Linked DNA regions of Homo sapiens: all the other regions are linked to region 1. A link means that fine-mapping ties the variant in region 1 to the expression of a gene that starts in the linked region. Tissue or cell type: whole blood. Region 1 holds a variant in brackets; each other region holds the start of a gene. All regions are shown on one strand. Distances are from middle to middle.

The links. PIP is the estimated chance that this variant, and not a neighbour inherited with it, causes the effect.
Region 2: BTNL8 starts here. The variant in region 1 is fine-mapped to the expression of BTNL8 in whole blood (TOPMed, PIP above 0.99).
Region 3: it holds the start of BTNL3, and the variant in region 1 is fine-mapped to the expression of BTNL3 in whole blood (TOPMed, PIP above 0.99).

The regions. Positions count from the first base shown.
Region 1 is chr5:181,021,147-181,029,253 of GRCh38, reverse strand. No RefSeq gene overlaps it. Among named protein-coding and RNA genes, the nearest start is that of BTNL9, 15 kb to the left of the region's middle. The variant C/G (reference allele first, on the strand shown) is at 3,176.
Region 2 is chr5:180,894,758-180,902,864 of GRCh38, reverse strand. BTNL8 (butyrophilin like 8) reads right to left here and starts at 3,706. Exons shown (of 8, transcript NM_001040462.3): 1 at 3,506-3,706. The coding sequence starts at 3,554.
Region 3 is chr5:180,985,704-180,993,810 of GRCh38, reverse strand. It overlaps BTNL3 (butyrophilin like 3), which reads right to left and starts at 4,965. Exons shown (of 8, transcript NM_197975.3): 1 at 4,734-4,965; 2 at 651-998. The coding sequence starts at 4,782. It also overlaps the pseudogene ARPP19P1.

The DNA of each region.
Region 1 (8,107 bases):
CTCAGACACCTGGCCCCAAGTGATCCATCTGCCTCTCTCTCCCAAACTGCTACAATTATAGGCGTGAGCCACCACACATGGCTAATATACGTGTTTGTTGCTATAAACTTCCCTCTTAGAACTGCTTAGAACTGCATCTCAAAGGTTTTCGTATGTTGTGTTTTCAATTTTACCTGTTTAAATTTTTTTTTAATTTTTTAATTGATCCATTGGTTGTTGAGGAGCATGCTATTTAATTTCTATGTATTTACAAAGTTTACAAATTTCCTCCTGATGTTGACTTCTAGTTTTATACCATTGTGGTTAGAAAATATACTTGAAATGATTTAGATCTTAAATTTGTTAAAGCTTTGTTTTGTGGCCTAACATATGATCTGTTCAGGAGAATGTTCCATGTGCTATTGAGACAGATGTGTATTCTGCAGCTTTTGAGTGTCATTTTTTTGTCTGTTTGTTTGAGACAGAATCTTGCTTTGTCGTCCATGGTGGAGTGCAGTGGTGCGATCTTGGCTCGCTGCAACCTCCATCTTTCAAGTTCAGGCGATTCTCGTGCCTCAGCCACTCAAGTAACTGGGATGACAGCAGTGCGCCACCATGCCCAACTGATTTTTGTATTTTTAGTAGAGACGGGGTTTCGCCATGTTGGCCAGGTTTGTCTCTAACTCCTGGGCTCTAATGATCCGCCTGCCTCAGCCTCCCAAAGTGCTGGGATTATAGGCATGCACCACCGCGCCCGGCCTTGAGCGGCACGTTCTGTAAATGTCTGATAGGTTCATTTAGTCTAGTGTGTGGTTTAAATCTGATGTTTCTTTGTTTGTATCCTGTCTGATGATCTGGCCATTGCTAAGAGCGTGATGCTGAAGTCTCCCGCTATTGAGACTGAAGGGAAGTGCTGGGAAGGGAAGAGCATGGTCCCTTTAAATGATACGGAAGGGGGAAGGGAAGCGCTGGGTAGAGGAGGGCGTGACTAGGGCTCCACCCCTAAGGATCTAGGTGTGGACAGGCGTTTCCTGCCCACATGTTGCGTTTCCCAAGACCACCCTGGCCTGCCACGCCCCCAACCTGTGCCTATAAACCTCCCAGACCCCAGCAGGCAGACACACAGGTGGGGTGGACGTCTGGAGAAACTGGCGCGGAAGGCCAGTGACCAGCAGAAGCACAGTGATGCAGAGTTTTGCTGGGGCAGTTGGAAATGAGCCCAGGACGCTGAGTGGCCTGACTCCAGGGGAAAACCTTCCCACTCCAAGTTGAGCTGGTTAACACAAGCCGCCTATATAGACTGCAAAACTAAAAGAACACCCTCTAACACACGTCCACTGGGGCTTCCGGAGCTGTAAGCGTTCACCTCTAGACACTGCCTGGGTTCGGAGCCCCACAGCCTGCCCGTCTCATATGCTCCCTTAGAGGTATGAGCAGCGGGGCACTGAAGGAGTGAGCCACAAGCCCTGCTTTGGGGACAAGGGGCGTTTTCCCCGTTTCACTATTATTGTATCGTAGTACTGTATTATTGCCATCTCTTTTTAAATTTAATAATGATTGCTTATTTGCTTCACTGTTGGGTGTACATGTATTTACTATTGTTATACTTGTTGAATTGACCTCTATTATTATATAATGACTTTGTCTCTTTTTATCTTACGTGAACTTAGCTACTCCTATTCTTGTTTCCCACTTATGTGGAATATTATTTTCCATTCCTTCATTTTTCATTTATATGTGTCCTTACAGGTGATGTGAGTTTTTTGTGGGCAGCATATAGTTGGATCTTTTTTAAAAAAAAATCCTTTCAGCCACTCTATATCTTTTTTTTTTTTTTTTTTTTTTTTGAGACGGAGTCTCGCTCTGTCGCCCAGGCTGGAGTGCAGTGGCGTGATCTCGGCTCACTGCAAGCTCCGCCTCCCGGGTTCACGCCATTCTCCTGCCTCAGCCTCCCGAGTAGCTGGGACTACAGGTGCCTGCCACCCCGGCTAATTTTTGGTATTTTTAGTAGAGTCAGGGTTTCACCGTGTTAGCCAGGATGGTCTCCATCTCCTGACCTCGTGATCCGCCCACCTCAGCCTCCCAAAGTGCTGGGATTATAGGCGTGAGCCACCGCGCCCGGCCCACTCTATATCTTTTAATTGAAGCATTTAATCCATTTATATTCAAGGTTATTATTGATAGGTAAGAACTTGCCCCAGCCATTTTGTTAATTTCTGATTGTTTTATAGATCCTTTGTTTCTTTTTATTAGTTCCATTTGCGATTTGTTGGTTTTCTGTAGTGATAAGCTTTGATTCCTTTTACTTTTCATTTGTGTATCTGCTGTAATTTTTTCTTTGTGGTTACTCTGGGACTTACATAAAAATCTTCCAGTTTTAATAGACTTTTAAACTGATACCAACTTAACTTTTGTCACAAATACTCTAGACTTTTCCTCTCTCACAATTGATAATCTTGTGGCTTCAATTTAGATCTTTCTATACTGTGTGTTCCTTAACAATTTATAGTTATCACTGATCGTTTTGATGTTTTATACTGGAGATCTGAAAGATCTCCATTTCAGTAATATAGTATTCTGAATTTGATTATTAATTTATGTCTACCAGTGAGGATTATACCTTCATATGTTTTCATGTTAGTAGTTATTGTCCTTTCACTTCCAGATGAAGCACTTTATTTATTTATTTATTTTTTGAGATGGAGTCTTGCTCTGTTGCCCAGGCTGGAGTGCAGTGGCGTGATCTCTGCTCACTGCAAACTCTGCCTCCCGGGTTCACACCCTTCTCCTGCCTCAGCCTCCCAAGTAGCTGGAACTACAGGCACCCGCCACCACTCCCGGCTAATTTTTTGTATTTTTAGTAGAGATGGGGTTTCACCGTATTAGCCAGGATGGTCTCGATCTCCTGACTTCGTGATCCTCCCGCCTTGGCCTCCTAAAGTGCTGGGATTACAGGAGTGAGCCACCGTGCCCGGCTGATGAAGCACTTTCTTAAACGTTTCTTGTAATGCCAGTCTTGTGGTGATGAATTCTCTCTGCTTTTGCTTGTCTGGGAAATACTTTATTTCTGAGGTATATCTCTGCTGGGTCTATTATTCTTGGCTAACATTTTTCTTTTAGCACTTGGAATAAATCATCCCTTTCCCTCCTATTCTGCAAGATTTCTGCTAAGAAATGCGCTGACAGTCTATTGTAG[C/G]TTGCCTTATATGTAATTTGTTACTTTTCTCTTGCTGATTTTACAACTCTGTCTTTGTTGTTGATTTCTGACAGTTTGAATATAATATACCTCAAAGATCCATTTGGATTGAATCTATAAAGGGTCCTTTAAGATTTATGGGTCTGGTCGTTCATATCTCTTCCAAGGCTTGGGCAGATTTCATCTATTATTTTGTTAAATAAGCTTTCTGTGCCTTTCACCATCTCTTCTTCCTCTAGAACTCTCATAATGCAAAAGTTTCTTTGCTTAATAGTCATTTAAGTCCTGTAGGCTTTCTTTGTTCTTTTTCATTTTTTTTCCTTTTTCATTCCTCTGACTAGGTTACTTCAATGGGTGCAGCACACCAACATGGCACATGTATACATATGTAACAAACCTGCACGTTGTGCACATGTACCCTAAAACTTAAAGTATGATTAAAAAAAAAAAAAAGACCTGTCTTTGAGTTTAGAAATTCTTCCTTCTGTTTGATATAGCCTGTTGTGAAGCTCCCAATTACATTTTTTTTTTTTGTCATCGAATTCTTCAGTTCCAAGATTTCTATTTGGTTCTTTATGATTTCTATCTCTGTTGAATTTTCTATTCAGGTCATAGCTTATTTTTTCATTTTATTGTCTATCTGTATTCTCTTGCTTCTCACTGCATTTCTTAAGATCATTATTTTGAATTCCTTTTCAGGCAATTCATAACTTTCCATTTCTTCGGGGTCAGTTACTAGAGAATTATTGTCCTCTTTCATTGACTTCATGTTTCCTTTTTCATGTTTCCTGTGTCCCTGCATTAACACCTGTGGATCTGGTGCAATGGTTGCCTTCTCTGATATTATGGAGTGGCTTTTGCAGGGAAAGTTTTGCCTGCAGATATGTCTTAGAGTGTCATTTGGGTAGGGTTCATTGGCTTTGGTTTTGAATGGGCGCAGTAGTCTCTGTGCAGTTTTTCAGCTGTAGTGGTCTAGGCTGCAGAAGTTTACGCAGCTGGTCTGCCAGATCTGAATGGGGATTGCCTGGGAGTTGTGTGCCTCACCAGTAAGTGCAGGGGCCAACCTGCCTATGATTGGGACCACCAGGGATGCAACACCCTGGCTGGTGAGTGTGCTAGTGGTGCACAGGGGCTGATCTGCTGGCTTGGGGTGGGGCTTTCTTGGGAGTGGTTCACTTGACTGATGAGCACATGGCTGCAGGCATTGACAGGTCCATCAGCTCATAGCCAGGCTCCCCTGGGTGGAGTGCCTGGCTGGTGAACATGCTGGCTGCATGCATTGACAGGTCTGCTGGCTCATAGCAGGGCTTCCCTGGGAGCAGCACACTGGCCTGATGAGTATGCCTGCAGTGCATGGGGGCCAATTTACTGGCTCAGGGCCAGGCTCCCGTGGAAGTGGCATGTTTGGCTGGTGAGCATGGTGGTGGCATATGGGGATCCATATGCCATTTGCTGGCTTGGGGTGGGGTCCCCCTGGAAGTGATGTGCACAGTTGGTGAACATGCAGGTGGCATGCAGGAGCTAGTTTGCCAGTTTGGGGATGAGGTCCCCCTAGAAGTGGTGCACCAGACTGGTGATTGCACCAGGATACATGAGGGCCTCCTGGCTCAGATTCACCAGCTCACCTGGCTACTGAGTGTGCTGAATGTGTACACAGCTGGTAAAGACTCAGCTTCTTTGCTGAGCAGGATTGTCTCTACTTTTACAGGCAGAGTGTCATGTGGATTCTGGTGCTGGGGTGCTGGGCCTAGGTTCTGAAGAGCTGAAGTTGGGGCTCTGCAGTCATTAGGATGCAGAAGGTGGGGCACCTCCTTGGTAGCTTATTCCCAGGAAGTAGTAACCTGTAGAAGCTTGGCTGGGGAATGGTGCAGTACTATGTGTAAACATGATGTAATGGCTGCATACCCTCAGAGATGAAAAGGTGCAGTGGTTACAGGCTCCTGCAGCAGGATGCACTGTGGCTGTGGATCCAGTATCAAGATGGTGCCATACAGCTGCAGCTTTGGTAATGTGTTAGGGAGTGGGCTACAATGTGGGCTCCTTCTCTGGGGTAGTGCAGTTCAGGGATGCCAGGCAGCTCCCCCAACGGGGCTCAGGGCCTGTGGGCGCTGCAGGATTCTCTAGCAGCAAAGATTGCAGGTATCTGTGATATCAGTGGGGATTCCTGGGGGCCTCCTGGTTACCTTTTTCCTGCTGGGGGAAGTGCCTTTTTTTTTGAGTTAATCCTGGCTGGGAAGACAGTGTAGCAGAGGCTGAGTGTCCTCATTTTGCTTCTATGCAGCCCTTCCAAACGGTCTAGTTACATCATGTTTCCTGTCTTTTCCTGCTGTACGCCAGCATTCTCCCTTATACACTACAGTGCAAGTGTAGTTATTTATTCATCATTTGGGTCCTGTTTTTTTTTTTTTTTTTTGGTGTGGGGAGTACAGGCATTAGGGTCCTCTAGCAAACCATCTTTTGAACTCATCCTTTTTATCAGGAACTCACTGCTGTGATTACTGATCCACTCCTGTGATAATAGCATTAATCTCAGAACCATAAGACAAGGCAATTATAAATTTTTAAAAATAGCTGCATTAATCTATTCATGAGACCAGAGAGTCCTTATGACTTAATCACCCCTTAAAAGTCCCATCACTTAACACTGTTACAATGGCAATTAAGTTTCAACATGAATTTTGGCAGGGACATTTAAACTATAGCACAGTATATAGTTGGGCCTTTTTAAAAAAATTCATTCAGCCATTACTTTTTTTGAATGGAGAATTTAATTCATTTTCATTCAAAGTAAATACTGTTAAGTATTTACTATTACCGTTTTGTAATTTTTGTTTTGTAGATCCTTTTTTTCTTTCTTTCTTTTTTAGTCTCCCTTTGTAGTTTTATAGTTCTTTTGTAGTGGTATACTCTGAATCCTATTTATGTTTTGTTTTGTGCATCTACTATGTGTTTTTGCTTTGTGGTTATCATGAGGTTTAACTAAAATATCTAACAGTTGTACATTTTTGTCCCCTACACACACACATTTTATCTTTTGATATCAGAATTTATGTAATCTTGTAATTTGTATTCCTTAACAATTTATTTTTTAATAGTTTTGTCTCTTAACCGTCATACTAGAGATAAAATTGCTTTAACACCACCTTTCTAGTCCTAGAGTTTTCTGAATATGACTCGGTTACCAGTACCATTGTTTTGTGCTTTCATGTGTTTTATGGTATTCATCAGTGGCCTTTCATTTCAGTGTAAAGCACTCTCTTTCCTGTAAGTCAGGCATAGTAGTGATGAATTCTCTTAGCTTTTGTTTGTCTGGGAAAGATCTCTCAGCACAAACACTACTGAGGAGAGAGTGGGATGATACATTCAAAGTGAAGAAAAAATAACCAAGAATACTTTACCCAGAAAAGTTGTCCTTTAGAAATGAGAGAGAAATAAAATCTTTCCCAGACAAACAAAAGCTAAGAGAATTCATCACTACTGTGCCTTAGGAGAGAGTGTGATGATACACTCAAAGTGAAGAAAAATAACCAAGACTAGTTTACCCAGCAAAGTTGTCCTTTAGAAATGAGGGAGAAATAAAATATTTCCCAGACAAACAAAAGCTAAGAGAATTTATCACTACTATGCCTGACTTACAGGAAAGAGAGTGCTTTACACTGAAACGAAAGGCCACTCCCTCATTTCTAAAGGACAACTTTGCTGGGTAAAGTATTCTTGGTTATTTTTTCTTCATTTTGAATGTATCATCCCACTCTCTCCTCAGCAGTATTTCTGCTGAGAGATCTGCTGATGGCTGTATTGATATTTCCTTGTATGTGGTATGTTTCTAATCTCTTTGCTTTGAATTTTCCTTTGCTTTTTGGTAGTTTGACTATTATGTGTCTTGGTGAACTCTTCTTCAGTTTAAATTTAATTGGGGACCCCTGAGCTTCCTGTACCTGAATGTTGGTATCTCTTCCCAGATTTGGGATGTTTTTAGCCATTATTTCTCGTAACATTTTTTCTCATCTTTTTTATTTCTCTTCTTCTGCAACTCCTATTATGCAAAAATTAGTTTTCTTGATGGTATTCTATAACTCATGTAGTCTTTCTTCATTTTTATTCTTTTTCTTTTTGCTCTTCTGACTGGATAATTTTTAAAATTTCTGTCTTTGAGCTCATCAGTTCTTTATTTGCCCTGATTGAGTCTGCTGTTGAAGTTTTCTGTTGACTTTTTTTGGTTCAGTCATTGTATTCTTAATCTCTAGGATTTATATTTGGTTTCTAAAAATTGTTTCTATTTCTTGGTTTATTGATCTATTTTTTCCAAATTTTATTTAATTTTTTATCTGTATATTCTTATAGTTCATTGAAATTCTTTAAGAGAATTGTCCTGATTTTTTTTGCCAGTCATTACATAAATCTACATTCCTTTATAGTTCATGCTTCCCTCTTTCTAATCCTTATGTCCCCGTGTTGGCATCTGTACATTTGAGGAGACTGCCACCTCTTCCAGCCTTTACAGGTATTCATTCACAGGAATTAACCTTCACTGTTTAGTTTAGCCTGTGATTCTGGATGGGCCAGCTGGTAGTGACCACAGGCAGGTAGAGCTTGCTGTTGAGTTCTCTAGTTGGGTGGGCTGATGCCTTTTATCTGAGGTCAAGTGGGGCTCCTGGCTGGGCTCTACTGTCCAGCGAGACCACTGGCTAGGCTCTGCGATCACGTGGAACTGCTGACTGGGCACTGCAGTTACCACTAATGAGGCCAGGTCACAGCATATATTCCCTGGCCAAGCAGTTTTGCTATTTGAGTTCTGCAGTTGGACAGGACTGCAGGATGGACCCAAAGGCAAGGCAGAATGCTGCTCAGGATGAACTAGACTAGAGGCTGTGCTCAGTAAACATGCATGATATGGGCTTGCTCTCCAGCTTTGGGGTGAGCTCTGGGGTT
Region 2 (8,107 bases), 130 kb after region 1:
AAAAATGATGAGTTCATGTCCTTTGTAGGGACATGGATGAAATTAGAAATCATCATTCTCAGTAAACTATCGCAAGAACAAAAAACCAAACACCGCATATTCTCACTCATAGGTGGGAATTGAACAATGAGATCACATGGACACAGGAAGGGGAATATCACACTCTGGGGACGTTGTGGGGTAGGGGGAGGGGGGAGGGATAGCATCGGGAGATATACCTAATGCTAGATGACGAGTTAGTGGGTGCAGCGCACCAGCATGGCACATGTATACATATGTAACTAACCTGCACAATGTGCACATGTACCCTAAAACTTAAAGTATAAAAGCAAAAACAAAAAAAAAAACCCTTTATAGTGTGACCTACTCAGGGCTCCATTGGGCTGGGCTGGAGATGTGCATCAGGGGGAAACATTCATCACAATCCTATTTCTAAAGCCAGTGACTTGCATTTGTGTATCTCCTTACATTTGACAAACCATGTCCACATCAGTTACTTCATTCGATCTTGAGGAGCACCTGCAGAAATGTGTATTATTAATGTTTTTATTTTTAAGATGAGAAAACCATGTTATCCAGAGGAAAAAGTCTCTTTCTGAATGTAGACCCTTTGATTCCAGGAGGTTCTATTGCCACATTCTCTCCCATCTGCCCATTTGCTTCAATTAAAAAAAAAACCCAAACATCCCCATTTCCATCGTCCTTGCTGAAAACCAAAGTTGACGTCTTTCTAATGGCCCAGAGAAGAGTATGGGCCATAAAGTCTCCAGTTTGCGGCAATTCGTTAAGGTTTCCTTCAAGCACAATATTATATCAATATTTTATGGCTACTATAGAGGAATGTTACATTTCTGCCCATGGCGCACACAATTATTTGTACTTCCTTAGTTTTTTTTGAAAATCTGCTTGTTCTGCCAAGTTCTGAAAGACATGCTGTGACACTGAAACAAGATTTTGCAGTCTGTTTTCTGTAAATTTGTTCTTTAGCACGTTCACGTGTGACTTATATTTTCCATAGCATGTGCCTTTTACGCTTGTGTAGTAATTTTTTCCACTTTATTTTAGCACTGAAAGGTGGTTCGCCTAGTGCTTTGTCAACATGTCTTGCCTTCATTTTTTTTAAAAAAAATTCTTGGTACATGTATGTCCTCACCTCGCTTTTGAAACTTTCTTCATTGTCTTGCTTCAAGTGTGACAATTACATGTTTTCTGTGAGCCTCCCCTGCACAGCTCTTGGCTCTCTGGGGACAGGGCCTGATTTTCTTGCTCAGCATAGTACCCACTTGATCAGCACAGAGCCAGTCACACAGAACAGGCTCCACAGTTATGCATGTGAACGGTGAGCCCCATTTCCTTTCTTACTTGCTCATCTGTTTAACAATCATTTGAGTAATTTTCCTGGTGTAAATCACTCTTACTACCCTGTAAGGATTACACTGCTTCTTAGAGACCACAGACTATGGAGGCCCACTCCCTTCACCTTCTAAGTACCCACCCCCTTTGACTGGCAGTGTCTCTTGATTCATTCACATGTATCCATTTATGGTATATGGATATACCTGTGTGTGCTGTCTGCATGTGCATCAGAGGGAAGGTGAATTACATGTGTGAATTTCTAGATCAGTGGATACTTTTTCATTTTAGCACTAATTTTTTAGTTTAATTACATTTTATAAATCTTGCTGAAATGTATTTCACTCATGCATCTTTAAGAGTATTATTAAATGAGGCATGACTTTGCAGCCTGGTGTCTGACCAGCTTCTGACCTGGTGTAGCAGATGTTGAGGCCCTGCTCCTCACCACCCAACCCTGAGTCCCCCTGCAGTGGGATGGGCATTTCCCTGCCTGCTGACAGCTCCGTCCCTGGAGCCTGGCCTCTGCCTCTCTGCTGAGGGCTTCCTGCCACCCTTGGAACCTACTTAGCCCTGGCACAAGGCAGCTCAGAAGGTTTGCGATTTTAGCAGTCCTGGGCGGCACATCTCACCCAGTGGGGAAAGGAGACAGTAGATGTTGGAATGACTCTGAGCCACCATCTATAAAGTTCCTCCAAAGGTCCCAGTGGGACTGGGTCCCAGTTGCCACCGCAGCAACGCTCATTAGCGCACCCTCTATGGCTTTCCCCCTACTGGCTTCACTCTCTCCACTCCCTCACTTTGTTTCCCAGAATCACCTGCTCAACGAATCACTGGCAGGAAGGCCCTTGTCTTAGGTCAGGTTTGGGGACCCAGCGTATGCCAGCTGGGCTGCTATGGATGCTGCCTTCAGGGCTGTGTGGGGCTCTTGAGGCAAGGAAACATTTTTCAGGGTACCTCCATTTCTCCGGCCAGCCCTTGCTGCTGTCACCTCTCTTGCCTATAACATCTCCTTTCACTCCTTCCACTTCCTTCCCTTGAAAATAAGAAAGGAACAAGACTGTTGCTGCAACATGCCATGCACCCGTGCAGCTGTGTGCACTCTACATGCACAAGCTCATGCAGTCCTCACCACAGCCCCAGCAGGAATGTGATCGTATCTCCATGTCATCATAAGCAAACCAACACCTAAGGAAGCTGTGAACAATAAAGCTCACAAGAAAATGAAATAAGAGTTTTTAAAAATAAAATGTTTCTGTCTCCAAGATCATTTCCAGGATGTCCTGCTGCCTCACCCGGAAACAGAAGGGAAACAAAGAAGCTCGTCAGAAAATAAATGAAAACAAACTGAAACGAGAGCGTCTCCTGTTAGTAACACATATGGGTTTTTGTTTTAAGGAAACATGCTCTATGTTTTGATTGCCCTTATTTCTGTTTTCTTAGCTTCATTTAGCAAAAAAGATATAGGTGGACAGGTGGCAGGATGAACCTTCACAGACAGAAAGTGAACACAGTCAATCGAATCTTCTGTGGCTGGGTACTGACCATCTAGCCACCAGCATTCTACCCCAACCTCAAGCTTCCTCTGTGAATTGTATTCAGTCACTCAACATCCTATATACTAGGTTCTGTGTTAACAGTAACTGGAAGGAGAAAGAAGAGTGGATTTCTTCCCAGAATATGCCAGGTTTCAGCTAATTTCTCACCTCAAGACCTGTACACCTTCCTCCACCCTCGTGTCTCATACCACAGACATTTCTAACTCAGCATGTCTTTAGCTGGATACATTGTCTTTTCCCCAAAAATCCTAACTGTGTCTCTTCCCAGATGGACATCCATGTCAGCAACCTTGGTGCTCCAATAACCCTGCCTACACCACTCAGCCCATCTGGGAGAAACACTGAATTTATTCACCTTAACACGTTAGGTGTGTCCCCGTCAACGATCACGGTGCGTCTTCAACACCCGTGTTTCCATTATTTGGGGGCTACTATAATTGTTTCCACAGCGCCTGATCCTTCCCCAGGCTGAGGCTAGGAGAAGCCAAAGGAATGGAAACGACAAAGATGCCTTCATTCCATTATGCTGCAACCATTGTAGCTAAAGAACTCAAACTGTTAGTTAGTAAGGAGGAAACAAAGATGAGTCTTACCTGATCCCAGCTTGAGGAGACTCAGAACCAAACTGAGCATGAGAGCCATGGATGTGTTCTGTGAATGGACCTCACGGCATGGAAACGGATGACAGGAGAGGTGACGGATGGATTAGAGAGAAGAGGAGAACTGGCCTAATGCTCAAGGTGCGGAAGCCACGGAGAGGCTCTGCGTGAGCGGAGGGCAAACTGCGCTGTTCTGAGAGTCTACTCCATCGAGACACAGCTGTCATGTACCAGAAGTGTAGGGACTCTAGACTTTGAACCACTGCATAAATGTCTATATCTTATCAAGGAAGCAAAGATAGAAATAGTGTGGATAAGATTGGAGGTGAACTTTGTCCTGGGCAAAACGATGCCCTGTGTGGGTGAAACAGGAATGTCAGATGCGGAAATACTTTTCACGTCCAATCTGGCAGGCAGGGCTGTATGGCCATGGGATCTAGTCCTGAAAAACCTCATGTTAGCACTGGATAGTTTGGTGTCCAAGTAAATAGGCCATGCTCCATTAGTAGTAGCCTACAGCAGGTGACTTGACATTTCCTGGCACAGTCTGAGGTCCTTTTGCTTACCCCTCCATTCTCTGAAGTTCAGGGCCAGGACTGTAATCATGAGGCCAGATAAAAATAACTTTCCAGAACAAAACAGATCCTTAGTGTTAAACATCTGATACATTGGGAAAGGTGCCTGGGCAGGTTCAGACATGAGGAAACTTATTTATTATATAAACTAAGTTCCAGGGCAGCCACAATGAGAGATTTGCAGTCTTTTTAAGCACACGGAAACTCACAAAGTCACCACTTAACTAGATCAGAATGAAAATTTCCACAGATAACCATCAAAATAAACATACTCTAATCATAATGCAATTAAAATTAAAAAGTAATTCAAAAACATAGGAAACTCTATACACTAAGAAATTCTTATGTAACAATTTAAAACAACTCACGAGACTAAATCACAATAAAAGTTAGCATCTAGAATAGGACAAAATGAAAACACTGCATTTAGTCTAAAATCTAGAACACTGACAACACCAAATGCTGGTGAGGATGCGGAGCAACAGGAATTCTCACTGATTGCTGACAGGAATGCAAGACGGTACGGTTGTTCTAGAAGACAGTTCAGCAATTTCCTGCAAAATTAAACATACTTTTATCACCTAATCCAGCAACTGCACTGCTTTTTATTCACCTAAATGACTTGAAAACATATGTCCACATGAAAAATTGCACATGAATGTTTATAGCAGCTTTATTCATAATTGCCAAAAATGTTTGCAACCAGATATCATTCAATAATGATACATAGAATGTATACACAAACTATGGTACATCTATACAATGGAATATTACTCTGTGATAAAAAAAAAAAGGAAATGAGTTGTTGAATGTTGTAAGCAAGAGAGTAGAATAGAAAATTATTGATCTCATGCTGTCTCAGAAATACAGATTTACCAAGGATATATAGACCAAAATACCTTTTTATGAAGCTGCTGAGAAGGCACAGTATCCTCTCCATTCCAGTGGCAGCTATGCCCCACCCATGGCCATTCGAAGCCTAGGCCTAGGCCCAGTGGAACGGTCATGACCCAGGCTTCTGAACCTACAGGCTGCTCTGGCCCCCAAGGACCAAACAGTCCAACCCAGCAAGGAAGCCAAGCCTGGCCTGGTGAAGCAGTTGTACCCTCTCAAGCATGAGCCAAGCACCTTGACCCCAGAGAAGCATGCGCAATAGAATGGCAACAATACCCCCTTGTGTGCACACTAACTGGGGGCCCCAGACTCAGCCCCAGGAAAGCAATGTCTGAGATGGTGGAGCAGCTGTGCTCCCTTGGCACATAAAGCGGCCTGGTGCCCCACCTCCAGAAAAGCTATGCCCAAGCCAGAACACTGGTCTTATTCCCTCAGCACACAAACCAGCCCTGCATCCCACCCGAGGGAAGCTGTACCTGAGCTGGTGGAGTAGTTGTGCTCTCTTGGTGCCTGAGCTCAGTGTAATCTACTTTGCTACCACCACTCCCACAAATTACTGCAGTACGGGCCACTGAGGCATCCACTTGTCACTGACATTGATTATAGCTGAGAAGCTTCACAGAGACTACGCTACTGTGCCAGCCAGAAGCAGAGCCGATACACCCTACTCAGCACCCGAGGACCTATCAACAAGTGAAAGTTTTTTCTTAGAAAAGCTACTTTATAAGTTAGGAGAGGCAAATGTTCTACCAGATGCACATATATCAACACAGGGACACAAGAAACATGAAAAAGCAAAGAAACATGACTCTCCCCAAAAAGGCTGAGGCAGGAAAATCACTTGAATCTGAGAGGTGGAGGTTGCAGTGAGCCGAGATCGTGCCACTGCACTCCAGCCTGGTTGACAGAGTGAGACTCCATCTCAAAATAATAATAATAATAATAATAATAATAATAATAATATAACATTTTTAAAAGTCAGCAAGATTTGAACTAGAAATACCATTTGACCCAGCCATCCCATTCCTGGGCACATACCCAAAGGATTATAAAACATGCTGCTATAAAGACACATGCACACGTATGTTTATTGCGACACTATTCACAATAGCAAAGACTTGGAACCAACCCAAATGTCCAACAATGATAGACTGGATTAAGAAAATGTGGCACATATACACCATGGAATACTATGAAGCCATAAAAAATGATGAGTTCATGTCCTTTGTAGGGACATGGATGAAATTAGAAATCATCATTCTCAGTAAACTATCGCAAGGACAAAAAACCAAACACTGCATGTTCTCACTCATAGGTGGGAATCAAACAATGAGAACATGTGGACACAGGAAGGGGAACATCACACACCGGGGCCTGTTGTGGGGTGGGGGGAGGGGGGAGGGATAGCATTAGGAGATATACCTAATGTTAAATGACGAGTTACTGGGTGCAGCACACCAACATGGCACATGTATACATATGTAACAAACCTGCACGTTGTGCACATGTACCATAAAACTTAAAGTATAATTAAAAAAATAAAAAATAAATAAAAAATAAAAAGTCAGCAAGATTCAAGATAATATAGATAGACTATTGAAAGAAATCAGGAAAAAAAAATCATGGTATAAATTAGAAATTCAGCAAAGAAATAGACATCAAGAAAAATTAAACAGATGTCTTGCCATTAGATTATTCAATGAAGGAAATGAAAAAATACAATAGAGAGCTTCAATGGCAGACTAGATCAAGCTTAAGGACAAAAATAAAGTGAAAAGAAAGAATTTTTTCATGCAAACGGTAAAAAAAGAAAGCAGGGGTGACTATATTTATGTCAGATAAAGTAGGCCAGAAGTCAAAAACTGTTACAAGAGACTAAGATTGTCTTTAAGTAATAATAAGCAAATAAGTTAATCAGACTGTAACAATTATAAATATGCAACCAACATCAAGGTGTGTAAACATATAAAGCAAATATTAGTGGACATGAGGAAAACATAGCAAAACAAAAATACTGGGGAATTTCAATACCCCTTTATTATTATTATTATTATATTTTAAGTTCTGGGATACATGTGCAGGAAGTGCAGGTTTAGGTATATATGTGCCATGGTGGTTTGCTGCACCCATCAAACTATCATCAACATTATGTAATTCTCCTAATGCTACCCCTCCCTCCCCTAGCTCCCTACCCTCCGACAGGCCCTGGTGTGTGATGTTCCCCTCCCTGTGTCCATGTGTTCTCATTGTTCAACTCCCACTTATGAGTGAGAACATGCACTGTTTGGTTTTCTGTTCTTGTGTTAGTTTGCTGAGAATGATGGTGTCCAGCTTCACCCATGTCTCTGCAAAGGACATGAACTCATCCTTTTTTATGGCTGCATAGTATTCCATAGTATATATGTGCCACATTTTCTTTATCCAGCCTATCATTGATGGGCATTTGGGTTGGTTCCAAGTCTTTGCTATTGTGAACAGTGTCACAATAAACATATGTGTACATGTGTCTTTATAGTAGAATGATTTGTAATCCTTTGGGTATATACAGTAATGGGATTGCTGAGTCAAATGGTGTTTCTTGTTCTAGATCCTTGAGGAATCGCCACACTGTCTTCCACAATGGTTGAACTAATTTACACTCCTACCAACAGGCTAAAAGCATTCCTATTTCTTCACATCCTCTCCAGCATCTGTCATTTCCTGACTTTTTAATGATCACCATTCTCACTGGCACAAGATGGTATCTCATTGTGGTTTTGATTTACATTTCTCTAATGACCAGTGATAATGAGCTTTTTTTCATGTTTGTTGGCCATATAAATGTGTTCTTTTGAGAGGTGTCTGTTCATATCCTTCACCCACTTTTTGATCAGATTTTTTTTTCTTGTAGATTTGTTTAACTTCTTTGTAGATTCTGGATATTAGCCCTTTGTCAGATGGATAGATTGCAAAAATGTTCTCGCATTCTGTAGGTTACCTGTGCACTCTGATGATCATTTCTTTTGCTGTGCAGAAGCTCTTTAGTTTAACTAGATCCCATTTGTCTATTTTGGCTTTTGTTGCCATTGCTTTTGGTGTTTTAGTCATGAAGTCTTTGCCCATGCCTATGTCCTGAATAGTATTACCT
Region 3 (8,107 bases), 35 kb after region 1:
AAAAAATAAAAAATAAAAATGAAAATTATATATGATGGTTTAAACAGAAATTAAGTCACTATCTGATATAGTGCTTATGTATATAGAAGAAATACTCAAGGCAATGTTATTTTTAAATTGTGGAGTTTGAAGGGCTCTGAATGAAAATGAAGTTTCCACACTTCAAAGTGGTAAAATGTTGATATAGTAGATTGTGATAAATTATATATGAATATCATAACACCTAAAGCAGCACCTAAGAAAACACTACAAAATGTTATACTAAAAAAAGACTAACAATAAGTTGTGATGGAATCCTAAAAAAAGTTTAGTAACACACAAGAAGTCAAGAAAAAAGAAGAAAATAAAAGAAATTGAAATATGACAGGCATTATCACTCTCATTTCACCAACATTGGGAGTGGCTTTCCTCTGTATCCTGTCAGGTGGTGGCAGGTGCAGGTGGCTGTCTTCTGCATCATGATCCCACCTGTGTGATGGCAGGGCCAGGCTCATCTCCAGAAACCTCAGGTCAGTGATCCCCACCGAAGCCTTTTTACATCATGTCAGAATCTGGAAAGTCTGTTTTATTTCATTATCTGAAATACTTTTAAGAGCTGATAATGGTAGCATGACTTTACAAGACAACTCAGTCATAAATAAACAACTGACCTGCCACCCGCAGCTCCCAGGTGGCCTCCTCATCGTAAATCTGGGAACTGAACCAGCACCCATACAGGCCGATGTCCGAGGGAGTGATGTTTTTTAGCCTTAGAGAGACACGCCCCCCTGCAATGGAGTCCTTCACAAACTCAGTTCTCCCTCGATACTGTGGCATCTGCTTAGATTCCCAGTCTTCCCCATCTCTGTAGAGGTGGACCACAGCATGGAACTGATTCCTGAAGAACCGCACTTCCATAGCCTCTGCACTGGTCTCAGGAAAGAGGGAGCAGGAGAACACGGCGTCCTCCCCCACCAAGGCCTGGACAAACTTGCCCGGTCCAGTGACTTGCCACTGTCCTATAGGAGGAAACATAACAGACAACTGAGCAAAATCCACTTGAGTCCTTCTCAGGGCTCTGGTGGGTGGAGAAGTGTGGGGTATGGGGTGGGGGATCCATCAGTCTTCTTTCTAAACCTGATGACTTGCATTTGCACATCTTACACTTGCGAGAATGCTTCCATGTCAGTTACTTCACTCGGTTCTCACACACATCTCATGTGAGATGAGGTGAGGTATGTGCTATCAATATTCCCACATTCAACATGAGGAAACCCTGTCTCTGGGGATGAGTTATTCAGGGGCCTGAGAGGCACCTTCCAAATGCAGACTCCCTGACTGGAGGAGAATCTATCTCCACGTGCTCTCCTCTCTGCCCATCTGCTTAATGAACACTCACACCACCCCCTTTGCATCTTCTATGCTAAAAACCTTTTTTAATGACCCAGGAGGGGAGTAAGTGGCCATAAAATATCGAATTTGGGAAAATTTATTTCCTTCAAATAGATGATTACATCTTGTAAATGTTTTATGGATACAAGAAAGGAATATATATTCTCCGCTGAAGCACATTTATTTGTGCTTCTTTTTTTTAAGTAGACTTCTGCCATATTCTGAAGGACATGGTGTGACACAGTGAGGAGATTTTGTAGTTTTTATTTCAGAGATTTGCCCTTTAGTGCACTGATGTTGTGACATATCTTTTCCATGACACCTACATTTTACTCCAGGTAATAATTTTATGTTTTTCCACTTTATTATTTCGTGCTTGAATAGTACTTCGTCTAGCAAAAGTTTGTCCAAGCCACAGCCTGTGGGCTGCATGAGACTCAGGACGGCTTTGAATACGGTCCAACACAAATTCTTAAACTTTCTTAAAACATTATAAGATTTTTTGTGATTTTTTTTCATTCATTAGTTATCGTTAGTGTTAGTTCTTCTTTCAATATGGCCCAGGGAAGGCAAAAGATTGGACACCCCCACTCTAGTGCTTTATCAACATGGCTTACCTGTTTTGTTTTGTTTGTATTTTCTTGGTACAGCTTTGTCTTGATCTTCACTTGAAACTGTCTTCATCTTGCTGCAAGTGACATAACTGTTTGTTTTCTGCGAGCCTTCCCTGCACGACTTTTAGCTTCATGAGGACAGAGTGTGTGTGTTTCCCTCAGCACAGGATTCCCCATGCCCAGCATGGAGAATGGGCTCCACAGACAGGGATTATGCCTAGGAATGGTGAGCGCTACTTTCTTTTTGCATTTGCTTCTTGGTTTTGTGGTCAACTAAGTAATTTTTCTGGTGCAAATCACACTTACAACTCTGTATGATTAGAGTTCTTCTTAGAGAGACCACAAACGATGGAGGCCCACTCCCTTCACCTTCTAAGTACCCACCCCCTTTGATTGGCAGTGTCTCTTGATTCATTCACATGTATCCATTTATGGTATATGGATATATCTGTGTGTGGTATCTGCATGTGCATCAGAGGCAAAGTGGATCCCATGTGTGAATTTCCAGATAAGTGGATATTTTTAATTTTAGCACTAATTATTTCTAAGTTTAAGTACATTTTATAAATCTTGCTGAAATGTATTTCACTCATGCATCTTTAAGAGCATTATTAAGTGAGGCGTGACTTTGCAGCCTGGTGTCAGACCAGCTGCTGACCTGGTGTAGCAGATGTTGAGGCCCTGCTCCTCACCACCCAACCCTGAGTCCCCCTGGAATGGGATGGGCACTTGCCTGCCTGCTGACAGCTCCGCCCCTGGAGCCTGGCCTCTGCCTCTCTGCTGATGGCTTCTTGCAACCTTTGGAACCTCCTCAGCCCAGGCACAGGGTGGCCAAGAAGGTTTGCGATTTTAATAGTCCCGGAGGGGCACATCTCACCCAGTGGGGAACAGGAAGCAGTGGATGTTGGGAAGATCCTGAGCCATCGTCTATACAGTTCCTCCAAAGGACCCAGTGGGACTGGGTCCCAGTTGCCACCGCAGCAACCTGCTCATTAGCGCACCCTCTATGGCTTACCTCCCGCTGGCTTCACTCTCTGCACCCTGTCACTTTTGTTTCTGAGAACAGTCTGCTAAACAAACCACCTGCAGAAAGGCCCTTGCTCTAGATCAGCTTTTGGGACCCAGCCTGTCAGCTGGGCTGCTGTGAGTGCTGCCTTCAAGGCTGTGTGAGACTCTCAAGCCAGGCAAACAGTTTTTAGTATATGTCTGTTTCTCCGGCCAGCCTTGCTGCTGTCATTTGTCTTGCCGACAGCGTCTCCCTTTACTCCTTCCCCTGGGGAGAAGCAAGGAATGACACTGTCTGTTGTCGCAACATACTGTGCCCCAGCGGAGCTCCGTGCTGGACGCTCTACATGCACGAGTTCACGCAATCCACACAGCAGCCCTTCAGCCACAGGAATGTCACAGATGTGATCTTATTATCTCTATGTCATCATAAGCAAAAATTGATGCTAATAGAAGTTATTAGCCACAAGCTCATAGAGAAAAGGAAAGTTTTAAAAATAGTGTTACTTCCTCTAAGGTCATTTCCAGCATGCCCTGCTGCCTCATGCAGAAACAGAAAGCAGACAGAAAGGCTTGTCAGAAAATGGGTGAGAATGTACTTAAACGGAGGCTGTCTTGTGAGTAACATACGTGGATTGTGATTTTTTGTTTTTGTTTTTTTGAGACAAAGTCTCACTCTGTCACCCAGGTTGGAGTGCAGTGGCACGATCTTGGCACACTGCAACCTCCGCCTCCTGGGTTTAAGTGATTCTCGTGCCTCAGCCTCCCGAGTAGCTGGGACTACAGGCGCTCACCACCATGCCCGGCTAATTTTTGTGTTTTTAGTAGAGATGGGGTTTCACCATGTTGGCCAGGCTAGTCTCAAACTCCTGACCTCAGGTGATCCACCCACCTCAGCCTCCCAAAGTGCTGGGATTACAGGTGTGAGCCACCACGCCCTCTGAGCACACATGGATTTTGATCCCCTTATTTCTGTTTTGTTGGCTTTGTTTAGCAAAACAGTCATAGGTAGACAAATAGCAGGATGGAACTGTTCCAGACAGAAAGTGAACACAGTCAAATGAACTTTTTGTGGCTTAACACTGACCACCCAGAATCCAGTGTTCTACTCCAGCCCCTATCTCTCCCTGCAAAATTTATTTGATTACTGAATATCCTATACACCAGGCTTTGTCTTGATGGTTACTAGAAGGAGAAAGAAGAGTGGGTTTCTGCCTAGACTATGCCAGGTTCCAACTTACTCCTCACTTAAAGGTCTGGTGCTCTACCCCATAACTACAGGTGTTTCTAACTCAGCATGTGCATAACTGGACACATTGTCTTTTTCTCCAAACATCCTAAACAGTGCCACCTTCCACCCAGGCACCCAAGTCAAAAACCTGGGGATTTTATTAGAGACTTCCCCTGCCTAAGCCCCACAGCCCACCTGGGGAGAACAATGTGTTTACCTTGGCGTTCTCAATGTGTTCCCTCCCTGCTCCCAGGGCCTGCTCCCATTATTCTGAGCTACTGTGATAGTGCCCAAGTCCTTGAGAAACAGCCCAAGGAGTCTTCCTCAATTCCTGCTGCCCTGTGCTTCCCACAGCTCCTGGCATTGGTAGTTTCCAGCCTGAGGCCAGGAGAAGCTGGAGAATGCAAGCACCAAAGATTCCTGCATCTCACTGTGCTGAGATCATTGTCATGAATGAACTCAAAATATTATTCAACAAGGAGAAAAACAACAGTCCAAACTGAAAGGCTTACCTGACACCAGCTCGTAGAAACTGAGAACCAAAATGAGCACAAAAGCCATGGATATTCCTGTGGGTTGATCTCACACTATGAAAACAGATGACAGCAGGGGTGGATGGATGATTTGGAGGTCAGGCCAGCTGTCTCAGGCGCAGGAGCCGTGGAGAGGCTCTTCATGAACGATGTCAAACTGTGCATTTCTCCCTAGAGCCTCCCTAAACATGGCTGTATGAATGAGGAGTATGGGCACTGGAGTTTGAGTCACTGCATTTATTGGCAGGTCATAAACATCTATCTCAGACCAGAGAAATGATAATGGAAAGAGAGTAGGGTACACTTGGAGGGACTTTGTTCTGGGTTGTGCCCCACATAGGTGGTAAAGGAATGCCAGATGCAGAGATATTTTCAGGCTTAGTCTGGCAGGCAGAGCTGCAAGAGAGAGTGAACATCTGTCCCTGAAAGAGAGATTGGACGGGCGCAGTGGCTCATGCCTGTAATCCCAGCACTTTGGGAAGCCAAGGCAGGTGAATCACGAGGTCAAGAGATCGAGATCATCCTGGCCAACATGATGAAACCCCGTCTCTACTGAAAATACAAAAATCAGCCAGGCATGGTGGTGCGCACCTGTAGTCCCACCTACTTGGGCGGCTGAGGCAGGAGAATTGCTTGAACCGGGAAGAGGGAGGTTGCAGTGAGCCCAGATTGCACTACTACACTCCAGTCTGGTGACAGAGTGAGGCTCTATCTCAGAAAAAAAAAAAAAAAAAAAAAAAAAAAGAGATCATCTCAGCACAGGGTAGTGAGGCAGTGAATTTGCCCAGGCACACAGGCCATGCCCCATGAGACTCATATTTCCTGGCACAGCATGAGGTAATTCTGCCCATCCCTCCCTTGTCTTGAGTTCAGGGACAGGACTCTGATCATGAGGCCAGATTGTGTTGAACTTGCCAGAACAACCAGGACCTTGATCTCCAAGGATCCAAGGTATTGAGAAGGGGACCAAGACGATGTTTCAGGCCCGGGGGTAAGGCAAAGGCAAAGATGCATTCATTCAGTCATTCATTAGATGCACTAAGCCAGGACACACACAGTTAGGGATTATGCAGTGATTTCAAGTCTAGGGACATGCACAAAGAATAAGCACTTACTAGATCAGAAAGCAGGTTTCCACGGAGAGCACCACGAAGGACAACGAAGGTAAAGAGCAATTTAAAAAGAGGAAACCCCATGAACTTAGAAATTGTTAATAACACAATTTTAAATAACTAATGGGTCTAAGAGAACTAATAATAGAAGTTGAAGGTAATTAGACTAGAAGAAGAATGAAAACACTACATTTAAAATACTATGATGCATGTAAGGCAGTTCTTACAGAAAGGCTTATCCTTAAGTGCTTGTATTAGGAAAAAAGAAGTCTGAAATTGGCTGAACAAAGCATCTGAGTTAATCAGAGTTAACTCTTGGATCCTGAGGGTCTCTGGCCACTCGCCTTGTCTTTTCTCTCCCTTCACTTTTCTTTTTTTTTCCCCCACAATCTGTAAACATGTAATCCTACCTTAAGTACAAAGCCATTACAAATGCAAAAAAATCAAAGATTACAAGTCAATTTCTTTCTGCCTACAGTAATAGCTGAAATGTAAAGAGATCAACTTCAGAAAAAAATACATTGAAAAACATACCACTTTAATAAGACAAAACTGCAAATTAGATGAATAGAAATTAGGTAGATCCATTTATTTTTTAAATACAAGTATAATTTTGGAAGAGCTATTTGACAAATTCAGCATTAACTGCCAACTCTGTAGACATGTTTAACAACAACAACAAAACAAGACATTTACTCTTGGCCCTTTTAGTACAGGTGAAGTGTCCTATTGCATCACAAGTATTAGTAATGAAGTAACAGATCCAAGGGCATAATATTAAAGATGTTTTTTTCCAATTGCGATTTAGTTGAAAAATAACATAATACGAACATATATGAATGGCTATCAAGACCACCAGTGATCTGCAGAATACCTAGAGGCCTACGTACTTAGAAGGCTGAAACTAGTAAAACAGTATTAAAATCAGTGTTTTTATTCTAAGATGAGCAATGACAGAGTGAGATTTCTGATTCCAATTTTATAAGGTGCGGTGGGGAGTTGAGAGGAGATATTGGGGAAGACTGGCACTTTGTGCTGAGTTAGAGATGGGAATGTGGCTCAAATTAGTTAATATTCAGAGTAGGATATTGTTTTAGAAAATTTTAAATGCATTCTAAATTGTGGCATATTGAAAAGGATATTAAGGAACAATGATTCATTAGCCCTAAACACAATTTAGTGAGTGCCATCAGTAGGCTTAAGAAATAAGCAGGGATGGCAGATGATGAGGCAAAATGAGGTGAAATAGAAAATGGAAAGTGGAAAATATGCTTGAACATTGGAGAATGTGAAAAGACCACTAAAGAAACTGCTTTGGTGATCACTCAGAAGTGCTCTTCCCATTGGCTACCCGCTCCTGATCACCTCTTCCCATTGGCTACCCGCTCCTGATCACCTCTTCCCATTGGCTACCTGCTCCTGATCACCTCTTCCCATTGGCTACCCACTCCTGATCACCCAAACACCAATTTTAGAGCACAGCAGCAGTAACTCCCTTTATCTGCAATTTCACTTTCCATAGTTTGTTACCCGAGGCAACCTTGGTCCAAACATATTATGTGGAAAATTCCAGAAATAAACCATGTTTTAAATCACAAGCTGGTTGTGCACTGTGGCTCATTCCTGTAATCTCAGCACCTTGGGAGGCCGAGGAGGGCGGATCACCTAAGGTCATGAGCTCGAGACCAGCCTGGCCAACATGGTGAGACCCTGTCTCTACTAAAAATACAAAAATTAGCTGGGCATGTTGGCGGGCGCCTGCATTCCCAGCTACCTGGGAGGCTGAGGCAGAAGAACTGCTTGAACCCAGGAGGCAGAGGCTGCAGTGAGCCAAGGTCGCACCACTACTCCAGGCTGGGTGATAGAGCGAGACTCCCTCTCAAAAAAAAAAAATAATAATAAAATAAATCACAAGCCATGTAGTGATGAAATCTCATGATCCTCCTCCTCTGTCCTGCCTGGGATGTGAATCATCCCTTTGTCCTGCTTATCCACACAGGTTGTATACAACCTGCCCCTTAGTCGCTTAGTAGCCGCCTTGGTTGTCAGATTGAAAAAACATAGACTATACAGGGTTTAGTACTATCTGAGGTTTCAGGCATCTACTAGGGGTCTCGGACTGTATCTCTTGCAGATAAGGGGAGACTACTGTATTACATTTCAGCTTCCATAAAACTTTACTAATTCGGATTAAGAACACAAGCCTGATTTTGTAAAAAGCATCCATAAATATTCAGAGGT